Linked DNA regions of Homo sapiens: all the other regions are reported to be linked to region 2. Evidence: microRNA targets listed by miRTarBase, many of them from high-throughput screens and not tested one by one. Region 2 holds a microRNA gene; each other region holds the end of a gene's coding sequence.
Evidence for each region. The annotated mature microRNA hsa-miR-6744-3p reads GGGCCUCUCUUGUCAUCCUGCAG and lies in region 2 at 2,932-2,954, opposite strand. An mRNA with a match to its seed (bases 2 to 7 or 8) in the 3' UTR can be bound and repressed. Matches are read on the target gene's strand: a 7mer-m8 pairs with bases 2 to 8, a 7mer-A1 pairs with bases 2 to 7 and ends in A, and an 8mer does both.

Region 1 (4,098 bases), not on the chromosome of region 2:
TCATGTGCTAAATCCAAAGGGTCTTATGAAAATTGTGCAATCTGAACTTATAATAAATAACCATTGACCTAAGAATAAAATTGTAAGACAAAAGTATAATGAAACTTATCTTTACAGAAGTAGGAAAATCTTTCCATTTGTCCTGTGTGAGCACAACTTTGTAATCCTTAATAACACACATGCAGATATTCACATAATAAATCTTAAGATATGTACATGATGACAAAGTATTAAAATATATACATAAACTACCAGTTAAGACTAATAGTCTGAATATAGGGGTCCAGCATTTTATTCTTCCTTAGAAAATATCTTCCTATTTGGGAATTTTTTTTTTTTTTGAGACGGAGTCTTGCTGTTACCCAGGCTGGAGTGTGGTGGCACAATCTTGGCTCACTGCAACCTGCCCCTCCTTGCTTCAAGCAATTCCCTGCCTCAGCCTCCGGGGTAGTTGGGATTATAGGCACCCGCAACCATGCCTGGCTAATTTTTGTATTTTTAGTAGAGACGGGGTTTCACCATGTTGGCCAGGCTGGTCTTGAACTCCTGTCCTTGTGATCTACCCGCCTCAGCCTCCCAAAGTGCTGGGATTACAGGTGTGAGCCACTGCACCCAGTCAAAAATTTTTTAGTGTTAGATTTGCAACAACATTTTTTTTTTTAATGCATGTGCATCAGTAACTTTTATGTAGACAGTTTTCAAATATTTCATTGTTTCTCAGCATACTTCAACTCATTAAATCTTTCCCAGTCTTCCTCCTGGGCATGCATACATGTCAACATCAGTTCAATTTCCTGTCCAGGGTACACAATGAGCCTTGTGTTTGGGAACCTTTGACCTGGTCATAACGTACCAAGGGCAAACACCTTGTAAAAGGTGACACAAAGAAATGTCTGAAACTTAAATTCGCCAGAACACAGAATCACCAGAGTCCCAGGTTGGATGTCAAGAAAAGTGCCATTAATTTCCTCACCAAGGTGTCCTAGAGAGATCAATAAAGTTCTTAATATTAAAAGAAAAAATATTAAAATTTCTGCAATTTTCAAATGCCACTTTATCAGAAGATACTTTTTTGGGTCAGGGTCTCACTCTTGTCACCCAGGCTGGAATGCAGTGGCACAATCATAACTTACTGCAGCCTTGAACTCCTAAGCTCAAATGATCCTCCTGACTCAGCCTCTTGATGTTTTTTACATTTTTTAGAGACATGGGGTCTAGTTTATTGCCCAGGCTGGTCTCAAACTCCTGGGGACTAGAAATCCTCCCACCTGAGCCCCCCAAAGTGTTGGAATTACAGGTGTGAGCCATTGCCCAGACAGAAGATACTTTTACTACAAACTTGTGTTCATAGCTTATATATCTGATATACAAGTAAAGTGAAACAGCAATCAACAGAGTAAACACATTTTTGACCTGAGGTATCAACCCATGGACCTTCCATGGATTATCGATTTTCAAAAACGTAGAATGCATTAGAATTGCACTCAACACTAAACTATGCTGAAAAGACTATAATGTATAATGGAACATTAGGGCCTTGCAGCCATCTCAGGTAGGTTGTCATTGTGAACATCAGTCATTGTTTAATAGAACTGTGGAAATGCTGAAGTTAGTTTAATCGAATTCTGAATAATAAAGTTTACCATTATTACCTCAGGTAGTCTTGAAGTAGCTTAGAAACAAAAACCAAACCTAATAACATTTAAGGTTAGAGCAGAAAAACATTCAGTCTACCTGAATTTTTTTTTTTTTAATGACAACTTTTTGGTTAGGATTTTTGTTTTGAGAAAAATAAGATTGTTATAAAAATAAGATAGCCAATTTATTTTCCATAAAATCAATAAGTGACAGTAAATCTGTCCATCACATTAAAGACCACCAAAAATGTTATTCCTGCCATGCATTTGAAATGAGAGGGGAAAATTTTATAAACATTTTAATGTGCGAAAAAGGTATTTTCCTGCAGTAGCCCCTGAGATCTTAGTATTTTGTTTGCCAGGAAGTTAACTTTCTATCCTATTAGAATATATCTATTTTTAAAGGTTAGTAACTAATTATAATTTCCTTAATAAGGGTGAAAGTGCAAAATTTCAAGAGAGCCATTATGATAATTTGTTCAGATTTTTCACAAAGATTTTTCTAGTTGCTTCCAAACAGTCTGTGGAAAACTCACTCTTTAGGGATAAAACATTTGAGAGCAATCGAAATGTAGGATATAATCCTGAAATAATGTAGCAATCTTTTACAAAAATCTCTATATCAACAAGAAAAATAACCTTTAGGATAATAGTAAAAGAAAAGGAAAAAAAATGAACATAAGTGACTCCAAAGCTGAATTCACCTGGACTTCTTCAGAAACTCCATTTTGTCCTATGTCTTCCAGACCTGAGTTAATTAATGGAACCTGTGAAAACAATCACGTGTCTGTGTTTTTGTGAGAAGAAAACTTTTTCCTTTATCTGAAGTATTTTTCTCTTCCTCCGTTCTCCCTCTTTAACTGGTAGTAAATTCCTATGATAATGTCAATAAGTTACAATTCATAAACTCTTCATGGGTGGGTATGTCTTGTGTATTCTAGCCCACTAACAAATAAAGCAGGCTTTTTTTTAAATTTCTTTTTTCTTAAAATAACTAATTAGCTATCTAGTTTAAGAAGGAGGTGCAGAAGGAAGAACAAAGCACCCGTGGTTTCACTTCTGTTTTAAAAAAAGTTTTTTAAAGCAAAAGCCCCTGGCCCTTTCTCTTCTTCTTTTTTGAGACAGGGCCTTGCTTTGTCACCCAGGCTGGAGCACAATGGCGCAATCTGGGCTCACGGCAGCCCCAACCTCGCAGACTCAAGCAATCCTCCCACCTCAGGCTCCCGGGTGGCTGGAACTACAGGCATGTGCCACCACGCCTGGCTAATTTTTGTATTTTTTGTAGAGACAGGGTCTCGCCTTGTGGCCCAAGGTGGTCTCGAACTCCTGAGCTCAAGTGATCTGTCCGCCTTGGCCTCCCAAACTGCTAGGATTACAGGTGTGAACCACCATGCCTGGCCTCTCTTCTCAGTTTTAATATGAGAAATTACATGATTATACCTTTCTGAAATCTTGTTGAGTTTGAAATTATGACTCAACGGAGAATATGACTGATACTGTGTCTATCAGAACACTGCTAACTGTATATTGGTGAATGACTGTAAGTCTAAAAATAGCTACCAAAGAAATGAAGAGCCACCTGGCAGAGACAAAGATACTGTGACCAGAAGAAGGAGATTATTCTGAGACACACATAGCTCTTTGACTTCTTTGATCCTTAGAGAGTATTTCAAAGTTTGTAGAGATTCTGGAGGATAATCAATTTGATTTTCAAATTCAATGGCCAAAAAAATGGCATTTTTACTTGGCCTCACATCTAAATTAGTTAGAACTGCAAAAATGCTAACTTTCCTAGCAGTTCTTCCAAGAAGCAAGCATTCATTTTCCTCTTCGTGTGTCTCATATTGGTTAAAACTCAGTGTTTCTAGAGACTTCAGTCATCAGTTCTACTAAACAAGGTAACGTCATCATTGTATCCTGGGGCTGAACACTCCAAGTTCTCTAGTAAAACATAATTGTTTTCATTGACATTCAGAGAGACGGCTTCTTTCTTAGCAGTGGATGTAAGCTCACTCCAAGTAATGTCAGTATTTTTAAAAGCATGTAGAAGGAAGATGCCAATGATAATAGTGAAGAATCCACTCAGGGTCCCAATGATATCTCCAGCTGTCATGCCATACCACTCTTGGAATAAGATGGCAGAGCAAGTCACTACCATGGATGTGAAGAATACATAATAAATGGGTGTCACAAGAGAGGTATTAAAGGTGTCCAGTGCCTTGTTGAGATAGTTAATCTGTGTAGTTACTGAAAGCACAAGTACAGCCAGCAAAACAAAGACCAGCGGATGTTTGTAAACTGGCTTCCATTCTATCAGCTCCTTAATGGCAATTCCCAGGCCTTTCACAGAAGAAACTGAAAACGCTCCAATCAAGGAACAGATTGAAATATAAACCAATATATTGGTCTGTCCTTTCTTGGGAGCCACAATCAAAATCAGCACCAAGGAGATCACAGTTAT
Region 2 (4,196 bases):
CCCGGCTCAGCCTCACCCCAGTTTCCAGCACCTTCTCTCTGCCTACCCCTGCCTTCCTGGAACCTGACCTCAGCCCCTGTCCCCAGCAGCCTGCAGGTCCTGTCCCACCCCCAGACCCCCTCAGTTATCCTCCTACTTCATACCCTCCCTTTGGAAACAAACAAGACCCCAGCAATGGCTGAGCTAGAGAACCCCAGGGAGCCAGGATAAGTGACTCAGGGCTGGGTCTGCCCAGCAGCTGTGGGCTCACCTGGGGGCAGGTGCCTCGGGTCTCACTTGGGGGCAGGTGCCTTGGTGGCTCACCTGGGGGCAGGTGACTCAGGTCTCACCTGGGGGCAGGTGCCTCGGGTCTCACCTGGGGGCAGGTGCCTCGGGTCTCACTTGGGGGCAAGTGCCTCAGGGACTCACCTGGGGGCAGGTGCCTCGGGGGCTCACCTGGGGGCGGGTGACTCAGGTCTCACCTGGGGGCAGGTGCCTCGGGTCTCACTTGGGGGCAGGTGCCTCGGGGGCTCACCTGGGGGCAGGTGCCTCGGGTCTCACCTGGGGACAGGTAGTATTGTTGCAGGCATCCTCCTGACATTGCACCGTTGGGTCCTGGGTGTCCCCAGAGAGGCAGGTACACATGTGGCAGGGAAGGGCGCCTGGGAAGGTTGCACCAACCTGCAAGGGGTGGGAGGGTGGCACTGAGGGCACTGGTGGGGCAACAGGGCCAGGACCCCTCCCCATGACCCAATGGGGCCTGCAGGGAGTTGTTCCTTCCTCAGATGGAGCATAGATGCACCCCTGGCTGAGCATGGACCCAGGCAGGCAGGGAGCTGATGCACACAGGGACCACAGGTGGGCAGGGAATCTGGGCAGGCAGAGACCCCATGTGGGCAGGAATCTGGGTGGGCAGAGACCCCATGGGGGCAGGAATCTGGCAGGCAGGAATCCGGGCGGGTAGGAATCTGGGCGGGCAGGCGGGGACCCCAGGCCAGTGTGTGCTGCCCCCAGGCTGTTGCTGGGAGCCCCTGAAGGGACCTCTCAGAGGCAGCAGTTGTGGAGCTCATGGCTGTCGACGTAAGGTGCCCCTGAGTCCCAAGCATGTCCCAGCTCTGACGTGTCCAGGGCCCCTGTGCGGATCGGCCCTCAGGGCAGGAATGTCAAGACAAGGAGTGGGGCTCAGAGAGCCCCGGGGCATCCCACACACATGTTCAGGCCCCAGGGCCACACCCACCCACTGCTGTGCCCTTACCCCGTAGAAGGTGCCATTGTACGAACACAGCTGAGGTCCTGGAAGGAAAGGGAGCTAAGCCCTCGACAAGTGGTGGGGAGCATGTGCTCCAGCGCCCCCACCATCCTGCACTCCCCCACCCCCAGCAAGAGGCCACCCAGGAGCCCGGCCCCAGCCCCGCTCACTGCAGCGGAAGGTGGGACAGCAGTCGCCCTCCTCCTGGGTGCAGATGGACTCCTGCCCTGGCGGGCACACAGGCAGGCTCTGGGGGCAGGTGGTTGTGTTGCACACTGCGGGAGGATGGAGGCCACTGTCTGGGCGCTGCTCACTCCTCCTCCCGACCACTTGTTCCCAGAGTAAGTCGCAGGCGTGCTTTTCCCCGAGGACCTGACCGCTTCACAGCCCCTGGGGGCTCCCTCCAGGCCCCTTGCTTGGCCACCTCCCCGCTGCTTCCCACGTCCCTGGGCCACTCCTGGGCAGGCCAGAGGTCACCAGCCTCATCGTTAGGAGGAGAATGAAGCACCTGGAGGCCATCTCTGCCGAGTGGTCCTGCCGCGGTCACGCCAGGACACAGTGGCTCTCCTCTGCTCTCCTGTGCCCAACCCACAGGCCCCTGGTGGGCACCGGCTCTGTCCCCCCTCACCCTATGCCGGGCACCTCTGCTCTGCAGCGTCTTACCGCACACCGTCTCGGGGCAGCAGGGGTTCTCGGCCCGGGGCCTGGTCACGGTTACGAAGCCGGGACGGTTGCACGGCGGGGGCTGACCCTGGGCGTCACAGGGCAGGGGCTTGCACTGCACCGACACTGAACCCTCGTCACACACGCAGGACTGGCAGTTGCTGACCCACCGCTCCCCGGGCTGGAATGGATCAAGGGGGTCCCTGAGGGCTCCTGGACAGACACAGGTCAACCCTGGGCATCTGTCCAGCCACCCCCTCCCTCGGGCTGGTACCCGAGTGGCCCAGAGTGATGGGGCAGGAAGCGCACACCAGCCACTGGCACGTCCACGTCACACTCGGGCGCCCCACAGCTGCCCTGTGGGATGGGGATGCTCCTTCCCTCCCTCCCTCAGCTCGCGAGAGGGTGGGGTAGGGCAGGTGGGGGTGGAGCCACTCACAAATTTAGGAAACCCATCGGGTCCCACGCAGGCTGGAAAGAAAACAGCATGGCATCACGGAGGGTGCTGAGTTTGCAGGCGGAGGGGCCTCTGGCCATGGGAGGTGCTCTCAGGCCTGGAGCCTGCTTCCCCCCGGGATGGAAGGCCCTGGAGAACTTTTGGGGTGTCAGATGTGGCTGGAGCTCAGGCCAGGGCACCGTGAGCCCAGCTGTCAGTGCATGGAAGCCTCGTCCATGGTGGTGGGAGGCAGGGCTCAGGGGAGGGACCATCACAGGATCACTCAAGGACAGAGCCTCCCTGTGGGGCTTCAGGGGACCGTGGGGGCTCTGCAGGGTTCAGGGCCACTCTGGGGCCATCCCATGCTCTGGTGGGGCAGAACAGGTCACGGGGGTCAGCTGGGGAGAGGGGAGAGCACATCATGGTCCTGGGCGGCTCCTCCCACCCTGTGTGTGCTTGGGTCGGGCCCAGGGTCGTATCCCGCCACAGGTGGCGGAGCTTACGGCAGGCCTGCACGCAGATGCCCATGTGTGCGTTGAAGAGGATCTGGTCCTCAGGGCAGAAGCAGCCCTCCGCCATCCCCTCCAGCTGTGGGCTCTGGTTCCTGCAGGATGACAAGAGAGGCCCTGAGACCTAGAGATCCAGGAGGCCTCCACTGTCATCCACGTGAGTCCCCAGGATGGGCAGTGGGGAGCAGGGAAGGAGATGAATGGGTGGAGTGCGGGGCTCAGGGTGGGCGGGGCTGGGGGCGGGGACGGGTGGGGCTGGGGTGGGGGTGGGCGGGGCTAAGTATGGGCGGGGATGGGTGGGGCTCGGTGGCGGGGCCAGGTGGGGATGCGGGGCCAGGCGTGGCCAGGGATGCGCCCCCTGCCTGACTCTGTCTCTAAGGCATCTGGGAGCAGCAGGGGATGTTTTCCAAGGAGTCCTGGGCTCGGGCACCCCAGAGATCTGTGGCCCACAGTGGGACACCCTCTGGCCTCCTCCTGCTCCCCCAGACCGGTCAGGCAGGCCTGGGTGGCAGGGAAGGCACCAGCCATCCCTGTACTTACCTAGAGTTGCAGGTGGCAGGCTGTATGGGGCCGCATGGCTTGTACACTTTGGTGGGTGGGCAGGTGAGGTCTGTGGGCACAGAGAGGTGTCAGACAAGCCAAGGGGTTGGGGGGGCCCAGGGCCGCCCCCAATCACCGCACAGGACACTCAGAGAGGCCGAGGAGTCTGGGGGGCCCGGGGCCGCCCCCACTCACCGCACAGGACACTCAGAGAGGCCGAGGGGTCTGGGGGGCCCGGGGCCGCCCCCACTCACCGCACAGGACACTCAGAGAGGCCGAGGGGTCTGGGGGGCCCGGGGCCGCCCCCACTCACCGCACAGGACACTCAGAGAGGCCGAGGGGTCTGGGGGGCCCGGGGCCGCCCCCACTCACCGCACAGGACACTCAGAGAGGCCGAGGGGTCTGGGGGGCCCGGGGCCGCCCCCACTCACCGCACAGGACACTCAGAGAGGCCGAGGGGTCTGGGGGGCCCGGGGCCGCCCCCACTCACCGCACAGGACACTCAGAGAGGCCGAGGGGTCTGGGGGGCCCGGGGCCGCCCCCACTCACCGCACAGGACACTCAGAGAGGCCGAGGGGTCTGGGGGGCCCGGGGCCGCCCCCACTCACCGCACAGGACACTCAGAGAGGCCGAGGGGTCTGGGGGGCCCGGGGCCGCCCCCACTCACCGCACAGGCCACCGGTTGCACCTCGCCAGTCACTGCACACTCCCCGGGCGCGGCAGAGCTCTGCGTAAGCCTCCAGGCTCTGGCAGGGCACCTCAAGGCGGCCCCTGCAGTGGTCGCTGATGCAGGCGTTGAAGAATGGGCCCGGGGGCACAA
Region 3 (4,098 bases), not on the chromosome of region 2:
CCCCATATCTTCTTTGTTACAAGATACTGCTACGTTTCTCAAAGAAAAAAACTCACTAGGCAAAATGTTCCCACGTTTAAAATATCACCGTTTAAAATGAAGTAAATAGGTTATCGTAGTAGAAACTGGTGGTTCCTCTCCAGCATCCATTCCTCTCTTTGTAACTTTTCCCAATTTTATTCAGGTATCCAACTCTCTCTACTTCTTTGCTTCTGAGTATGCTGACCCCATTTCCACCTCTAGGATGGGCCTTAATTGGCCTGAAACAATTAGGGTAATTCTTTCTTCTATAGTTACTGCTTTAGGGAACTTGTGTTATAGAATGGCATTCCCTGATCACAGGGGCTGGCTTAGAAATTTCATGTGACTTGATTTGGGCTGATACAAGGGAAGGCTGACTGAAAGCTTCTGGAAAATACCAGAGCTCCTAGGAGTGGCCTTTTCTCCTACTGCAGGGGTTGATACGTGAATATGAAACCTGGTTGGCCTTTTGTCTACATGAAACAAGTGGGCCTGAGGATGAAACTGGCACTGCAGAAGATTCAGGGGAAGGAAAGAAAGCTGATTTTTTTTTTTCTTGAGACGGAGTCTGCCTCTGCAGCCCACGCTGGAGCGCAGTTCGCAGTTGTGCGATCTTGGCTCACTGCAACCTCTGCCTCCAGGGTCCCGGTTCACAAGCAATTCTCCTGCCTCAGCCTCCCGAGTAGCTGGGATTACAAGCATCTGCCACTATGCCCAGGTAACTTTTGTATTTTTAGTAGAGACGGGGTTTCACCATGTTGGCCAGGGTGATCTTGAACTCCTGACCTCGTGATCTGCCTGCCTCGGCCTCCCAAAGCGCTGGAATTACAGGCGTAAGCCAACACGCCTGACCAAAAGTTGATCCTTTTTTTTTTTTTTTTTTTTTGAGATGGAGTTTCGCTCCTTTTGCCCAGGCTAGAGTGCAATGGCACGATCTCAGCTCACCGCAACCTCCAACTCCCGGGTTCAAGCGATTCTCCTACCTCAGCCTCCCGAGTAGCTGCAATTACAGGCATGTGCCACCACGCCCAGCTAATTTTTTGTATTTTTAGTAGAGATGGGGTTTCTCCATGTTGGTCAGGCTGGTCTCGAATTCCCGACCTCAGGTGATCCACCTGCCTTGGCCTCCCAAAGTGCTGGGATTACAGGTGTGAGCTACCATGCCCGGCCAGGAAAGTTGATCTTTTATGATATCATTTTATGACATTCTAACAGTGATCCATGTAAAATCCACAAGTAAAACGGCTTTACAGCACACATGGCAATGGTCTTGAGAAAGAGTGGGAAAAGCTCTTAAGACCATGTAAAACAGAAGCACATTTGCAGGCAGTATATGGCACAGTTTAGAAGACAAAGCAGCTGGGCTTAAACCAAGCTCTGCCATTAATGTGCACTGTGATCTCACATAAGCCACCTTTTCTTGCCCTTGATACCTATTTGGTACAAGTTAAGAGTTGTACTAGACGAGTAGCTTCTCTTTCACTGTCTGGGATTTTTTCTTTCTTTTTGAGACGGAGTCTCACTCTTGTCGCCGAGGCTGGAGTGCAGTGGCACCGTGTGGGCTCACTGCAACTTCCGTCTCCTGGGTTCAAGCAATTCTCCTGCCTCAGCCTCCCGAGTAGCTGAGATTACAGGCACCCACCACCATGCCTGGCTAGTTTTTATATTTTTAGTAGAGATGGGGTTTTACTATGTTGGCCGGGCTGGTCTCAAACTCCTAACCTCAGGTGATCCACCCGCCTCGACCTCCCAAAGTGCTGGGATTACAGGCATGAGCCACCACACCCGGCCTGGACTTCTTATATATGAGGTCTTATATATAATCTTACATATAAATATATATATCTATGTATAAAATCTATCTATGTATATCTATCTATCTATAAAGAAAGAGACAGAGACAGATACAGGGTCTCACTTCGTTGCCCAGGCTGGTCTCAAACTCCTGGGCTCAAGTGTTCCTCCTGCCTCAACCTTCCAAAGCGCTGGGATTACAGGCGTGAGCCACCAAGCCCAGCTACCATCAGCAATTTTTATTATTGTTCTTCCTTGTGGATTTTGTTTTTAATGATTTGGTCCATCAATACATCTTTCTCATGTACTTGCTGGACAAAGCGCACAACTGCAGATCAGCTCTCCTGATCAGCAAAGGAAATTAATTTTATTTTCTTTAATAAATTACTATAACTTGACCTGAAGATGTAAAAATATATTATTAGCTTTTGAAACTTTAATATAGATGTAATTTCTGACAAGCTTTTACAAATACTGAAAATAGCTTCCAAGTCCTCTTTCTTCTTTTAAGGATCTTTGGAGATTCATAAAAACTACTGAATTTGCTGATTATTTAAGTTATTAGAGGAAGATGAAAATTCAGTGACTTCTCAAAAATTATAATTCACATTTAATTACAAGTCATGATTTTTCTTTACTTTTTCAACAAAATGGTAAATATAGTCTTTAAAAGATGTAAAAAAAAAATTTTTTTTACATTTAAATAAGCATTTAAAAATCTAAGGTAAGACTACAAAGCAGCATAACAGGTTTTCTGTCACTTGTAAACTGGATTAGAAGGCAATCCCCAGAATTCCAGAACCGTTGTGGAGATATGATTTTTAATTTACAATCTAGAAAAACTGCATTCAACAAGTAGTCCAAGGATTTGGGTTCTAGTTGCCAGCTTGCATGGTACAATCTTGAGTAAGTCTCTCAACTTCTGGATATAGGAAATCAAAGGCCCCCCAACAGAATGAAAGGTGTTAAATCAGGTCATCTTGAATATTCTTCCCAGCTCTGTTATTTTACAACGCCATGAAATCAGAGTAACATGTTCCAGGCTGTTTGGGGTTTGGGATTTTAGAACCTGATGCAATGTATAGCACTTTTTAAATTTCTACTTTTTGGAGTCTTATTCGAATATATACATATATATATGTCCCCCATGTTCTTCTGTGCATGTAGTATATTTTTCTATTTAACAGCCTCTTCACCATTAGCAATAAAAAAGTTTCTCAAGGATGTATTTTTTATTTCTTTTTTTTCGGGGGGAGAGAGTTTCACTCTTGTTGCCCAGGCTGGAGTGCAACGGCGCGATCTCGGCTTACTGCAACCTCCGCCCCCCAGGTTCAAGTGATTCTCCTGCCTCAGCCTCCTGAGTAACTGGGATTACAGGCATGCGCCATCACATCTGGCTAATTTTGTATTTTTCGTAGAGATGGGGTTTCACCATGTTGGTCAGGCTGGTCTCGAACTCCTGACCTCAGGTGATCCGCCCACCACGGCCTCCCAAAGTGCTGGGATTACAGGCATGAGCCACTGCGCCCGGCCTCATTTCTTGCTTTTATGTTTTTTTGGCTTCCTTTTTTAATTTCTCCAAGATCTCTTCTGGAGTTGTAGAAGCCAAAAGCTTCACCACCTTTTCACGAGATTTACCACCCTGGACCAAAAGAGAAAAAGCATACTTTACTGTTTAGCACATTCTAATGCTATTAGAGATAGCAGACCTCCGTTGTATAATGGGCTCTCCTGATGGCTTTCTCTTGGTTACTTCTGGTCTAACCAAAGACTATCTCTTAGATTCTTCCTTACTACCATTTGTTACTAAACATTTGTTAGTACTAACAACTCTCCAGGGTTTTTACCTTCATACATCAATTTCTATAATAAAAGCTGGACATTAAAATCTCAAAAATGGGCCAGGCGCGGTGGCTCACGCCTGTAATCCCAGCACTTTAGGAGGCCAAGGTGGGTAGATCACGAGGTCAGGAGTTCAAGACCAGCCTGACCAACATGGTGAAACCCCGTCTGTACTAAAAATACAAAAAATTAGCCGGGCATGGTGGCATGTGCCTGTAATCCCAGCTACTCAGGAGACTGAGGCAGGAAAATCGCTGGAACCCAGGAGGCAGAGGCTGCAGTGAGCTGAGATCGCGCCACTGCACTCCAGCCTGGGCAACAGAGCAAGACTCCATCTCAAAAAAAAAAAAAATCTAAAAAATGATATTCTAGTCTCAAGCAATTAAGTTAAAAATGAAAATCATCTTTAAAATACCAAAATAAATATTGCAATTTTATATA
Region 4 (4,098 bases), not on the chromosome of region 2:
CCTTTCTATATATTTTAAAGTGTATTTCTGTGAACATGAGAGAATTTGTATTATTAATTCATAAGAATTTACTCTAAATGGGAACATACTATGAAACTATGAAAGAAATTATCATCTTGAAATAATTTTATGTATCACTATGGGATTCAGATACCTGATACATGAAAATAGTTGAGAGAATTAGCTAATTTAATCTAGATATTTTAATCGACGTGCATATTTAATTCTGTTTATATTTCTTTTCATTCTGAATTGTTTTAATTTTCCAGATTTTTAGATATATCCGTAATACAGTAGGACAAAAGAATTTGGCATCCAAAACATTGGTGGATCAAAGATTTTTGATTTAACTTCCTGAATAAATAACTTAAAGACTCAGTATAATCATGGCCAAAAAAAAGTCATGATATCAGGTTAGTTTGCCATATTTTTTAAAACTTATAATGCAGACTATTCTGTTTTTGTTTTTTATTTGCAGAAAGATTTATTTTTATAACTTGGGAATATATAACCTGATATAATAGAAAATACTGTTTTCCCATTGTGTGTAGTATTTAATGCAGTAAATAATAAATTAATACTGACAGTGAGGCCAAAAAAAATCTAAATGTTGCTTTCAGCATAATACTTTTTAATGCTAATTAAAACAGTCCCCATCATTTGTCTCTGTAGATTATTTTATAAACTGAGAGCTGCCTGAATCTTCTCACATTGACAAAGTAATTTGATTCCAAGTTTAAGACTAGTTTTCAGTTTGATATTTTCATGTTTTGTGTGCTTATGGTTAAATAAATGTTGAAAGATATTTTCAAGTTTACTTAGAAATTTTAAATTGTATTATTGCTGATTCAATTTGCATCATTCTAATTGCTCATCCTCTTTGGCAGTGGATTAATTCACTGTTGGGTTAATATGCATCTCATGAAATGATATCTTTTCATTCCTTTGTATACCTGTATTAGGTCAGTATACGCTTTCCATGAAATATATTTGCATTTCTAATATAGTTTACATTTATTAAGTTATAACGTATGACATTTTTCCCAATATCATTTTTTATACATTTTAATTACTTAATGTTTTAAGAGTTCTCTTCCAGAGTTTTGCTTTTCAATTACGTTTAAAGACTGTAAATAACAAACAGTAAGGCTGGGCGCTGTGGCTTACGCCTGTAATCCCAGCACTTTGGAAGGCCAAGGCACGTGGATCACTTTAGGTCAGGAGTTCAAGAACAGCCTGGCCAACATGGAAAACCCCATCTCTACAAAAAATACAAAAATTAGTTGGATGTGGTGGCCTGTAATCCCAGCTATTTGGGAGGCTGAGGCATGAGAATAGCTTGAAACCAGGAGGTGGAGGCTGTAGTGAGCCAGATAGCACCACTGCACTCCAGCCAGGATGACAGAGCAAGACCCTGTCTCAGAAAAAACAAAAACAAAACACTGTAAATGTATCATGTTTCTCACTGCTTTCTATGTTAATGCTGTGTAAATACTTAAAATGGAATACTGTATAAATATTATTTATATTTTCTCAGATGAAAATATATACTAAAACATTTGGTATTTCTGTTTTCTGTTTCATTAATGTATATCTGATGGAGTACCATTTAGGAATATAACATTATTGGGGCAGAGGTCCCAGCCATTGCCAAAGTTGAATCTTTTACATTTCCCTGAATCTTGAGGATGACTGAAAAGGAAGTCTTTGAAACTGCAGTTTCTGAAGGATCACAGTACAGGAATGCCTTTATAAAAGCTGCAGAGATAAATACATGTACTTATATGGCATGGATATTTAAAACCACTCACTCAGAAGCATATGAAAGAAATTCAACCATCATTCAACATAGAAGAAGTTAATTTTAGTGCAAAAGTTTTTAAGTATTAAATTTCACAATAAAGGATCAATTGGCTTACTTGCTGATAAATTAAAACAGAAAACATTTAAAATCATTCTAAATTTTGTATGATATTTTTATTTTGGCTAGGTGCATAAAAATGTGTTCAGATTTTCATACACTGTCGACTCCTTTGTTCACATTGTCACAATTTACATTTCCTGATCATGTGCATAATTATTCACTAGATTCATTACCCTTTGTCTATTTCTGTAGTACCCAATCACTATACTTTGACTCTTATATCCCTGATTTTACTGATTTTCTAGAAACATTTGATTTCTCTTCATTTCATAATGAAACAAAACCTAGAGAGGTTCTTTATAAGCTGTTGTGTACTTTGGATGCTCCTTAGAAACATACAGGCCCCTAAAATACTTCTGTAGACCAGTGCCTCTGTTATGGGAGATTTGTAAATGCTTCCTTCTCTGGCATTGCTGTCCTAACTGCCTTTTCAGAAGGCTTTGCTGATGACCTACATTGAGGAACATTCAAAATGATCATTAACTCAGCACTTACAAGCATGAAGCATGTGTTTTTTTTGTAAATATTGACAAATATAAGCTGAGGGGAAATAACTGTAAGTCAAGGAGCAGTGAGGAGTGTGGCTTAATGGAAAGTGCTCCAAATTTAGCAAAAGAAGCCCTGGATTCAAATTAGAATTTTGCCCATCACTCATAAGCTTTGGTATCTTGAACTAAGTCATTTGCCATCATTGAGCTTCATTCTACATCTCTGCAATGAAAATAATATCCTTTGCTTACCACTTGTTGTAAGGATTAGTTTCGTGGGTGTGTGTGTGTGAGACAGAGAGAGAGAGATGGGGTCTCACTCTTATCACCCAGGTTGGAATGCAGTGGCACGATTTTGGCCCACTCTAACCTCTGCCTCCTAGGCTCAAGCAGTCCTCCACCTCAGCCTCCCAAGTAGCTGGAACAACAGGTGTGCACCACCATGCCCAGCTAATTTTTTGTATTTTTTTTGTAGAGACAAGGGTTCACCATGTTGCCCAGGCTAGTCTTGAACTCCTGATCGAGAGATTCACCCACCTCGGCCTCCAAAAGTGCTGGGATTACAGGTGTCAGCCACTACACATGGCCAGGATTAGTTTCTTAGAATGTGCTTTTAACATTGAGTAAACTATGAATGCTGGAATTTTTATTTTTAGTTTAAAATATCTGCCCCAAAATATATTTTTTTCTTGCTAATAAATTAATAATATGATATTAAAACTCAGATTACTGATCTCAATAACTGACCAATGAAAATTCTGAGCCTGCCTTCTTCCTCAGCCACCCCCAGCTCTGCCAGGAAGAGGCCCAGATAGAGGTCACCGATAGATGTAAAACATAAAAGAAGACAACACCCCTGTGGGAGACACAGTTTGTGATAGAGGGTGGAGAGAACAGGAAGAGTGGAGTATTGTCTCTGGGAGGGAGGGTTTTTTTCATTTGCTCATTCATTCCAACAATGTTTCTACCTCTTCCCACTCCCCAGCCCCTCAGAAGGGTCTTATAATTTGTAAGAGAAAGAGGTAAATTAACCAGTAATTACAGCAATATGAAACGTGCTGCAGTACCGGGGTGTGATATAAGGAAAGCTCTTAACTGTACTTCTGGGTCATCAGGGCTTTGACCTCAGAGAAGTGGATTTGATCTAAGATTTTAAGATAAACAAAAAAAAACAAGTGCAACCAAAGCATGGAACAGTATGTGCTCAGAGACAAAGCAGCACATGGCAGTTTGGGGCACTACGGGCAGTTTGAATCAGAGTACATGTACTGTTTATATTTTAAAAGTTGTCTGTATAAGATGTTTTGTCATTTTAAGAAACCTTCCCTTCTGGGGAGTGATTGTCCCTCCTGGGGCTCCCCAGTTCTTTTAGACAGCAAAGAACTCAGGTGGGAGCATACCTTTGATATACAAACTATAGACCTGAGCCACACCTCCTCTGTCTGGCCCTGAAACCCTAGGAGGCAATGTTCCTCTTCCTTAAATCATCCCAGGACCAGGTAACGGGCAACTAGGGATAGTCTCTGTAGTTTAGAGCACACTGAAATTATTCCAACGAGCCGATCCCAAACTGTTGACCCCACCCTGCCTTGCCATTTCCTCAGAAACTCCAGTAAGCACCCAGGCTCTGCCCTGGCTCCTGGTGCTCCTGCCTCCTGACTGGTGCTTTCCCCCATGGCTGTGCAT

Region 1: the mRNA of NIPAL1 is a reported target of hsa-miR-6744-3p. Seed matches in the 3' UTR shown: 7mer-A1 at 3,383-3,389, 8mer at 3,033-3,040 and 7mer-A1 at 2,989-2,995.
Region 3: miRTarBase lists C15orf40 as a target of hsa-miR-6744-3p. Seed matches in the 3' UTR shown: 7mer-A1 at 1,143-1,149.
Region 4: miRTarBase lists TMEM67 as a target of hsa-miR-6744-3p. Seed matches in the 3' UTR shown: 7mer-A1 at 589-595.

The regions. Positions count from the first base shown.
Region 1 is chr4:48,035,585-48,039,682 of GRCh38, reverse strand. It overlaps NIPAL1 (NIPA like domain containing 1), which reads right to left. Exons shown (of 6, transcript NM_207330.3): 6 at 1-4,098. The coding sequence ends at 3,511. Among named protein-coding and RNA genes, the nearest start is that of NIPAL1, 21 kb to the right of the region's middle. RefSeq lists enhancers at 2,671-2,730, 2,751-3,010.
Region 2 is chr11:1,255,406-1,259,601 of GRCh38, reverse strand. It overlaps MIR6744 (microRNA 6744), which reads right to left and starts at 2,997; the gene lies at 2,932-2,997. It overlaps MUC5B (mucin 5B, oligomeric mucus/gel-forming), which reads right to left. Exons shown (of 49, transcript NM_002458.3): 37 at 4,044-4,196; 38 at 3,377-3,446; 39 at 2,831-2,931; 40 at 2,331-2,362; 41 at 1,892-2,072; 42 at 1,399-1,503; 43 at 1,235-1,272; 44 at 541-660.
Region 3 is chr15:83,002,236-83,006,333 of GRCh38, forward strand. C15orf40 (chromosome 15 open reading frame 40) reads right to left here. Exons shown (of 4, transcript NM_144597.3): 4 at 1-3,457. The coding sequence ends at 3,362. Among named protein-coding and RNA genes, the nearest start is that of C15orf40, 7.4 kb to the right of the region's middle.
Region 4 is chr8:93,816,103-93,820,200 of GRCh38, forward strand. It overlaps TMEM67 (transmembrane protein 67), which reads left to right. Exons shown (of 28, transcript NM_153704.6): 28 at 270-2,019. The coding sequence ends at 350. Among named protein-coding and RNA genes, the nearest start is that of TMEM67, 63 kb to the left of the region's middle.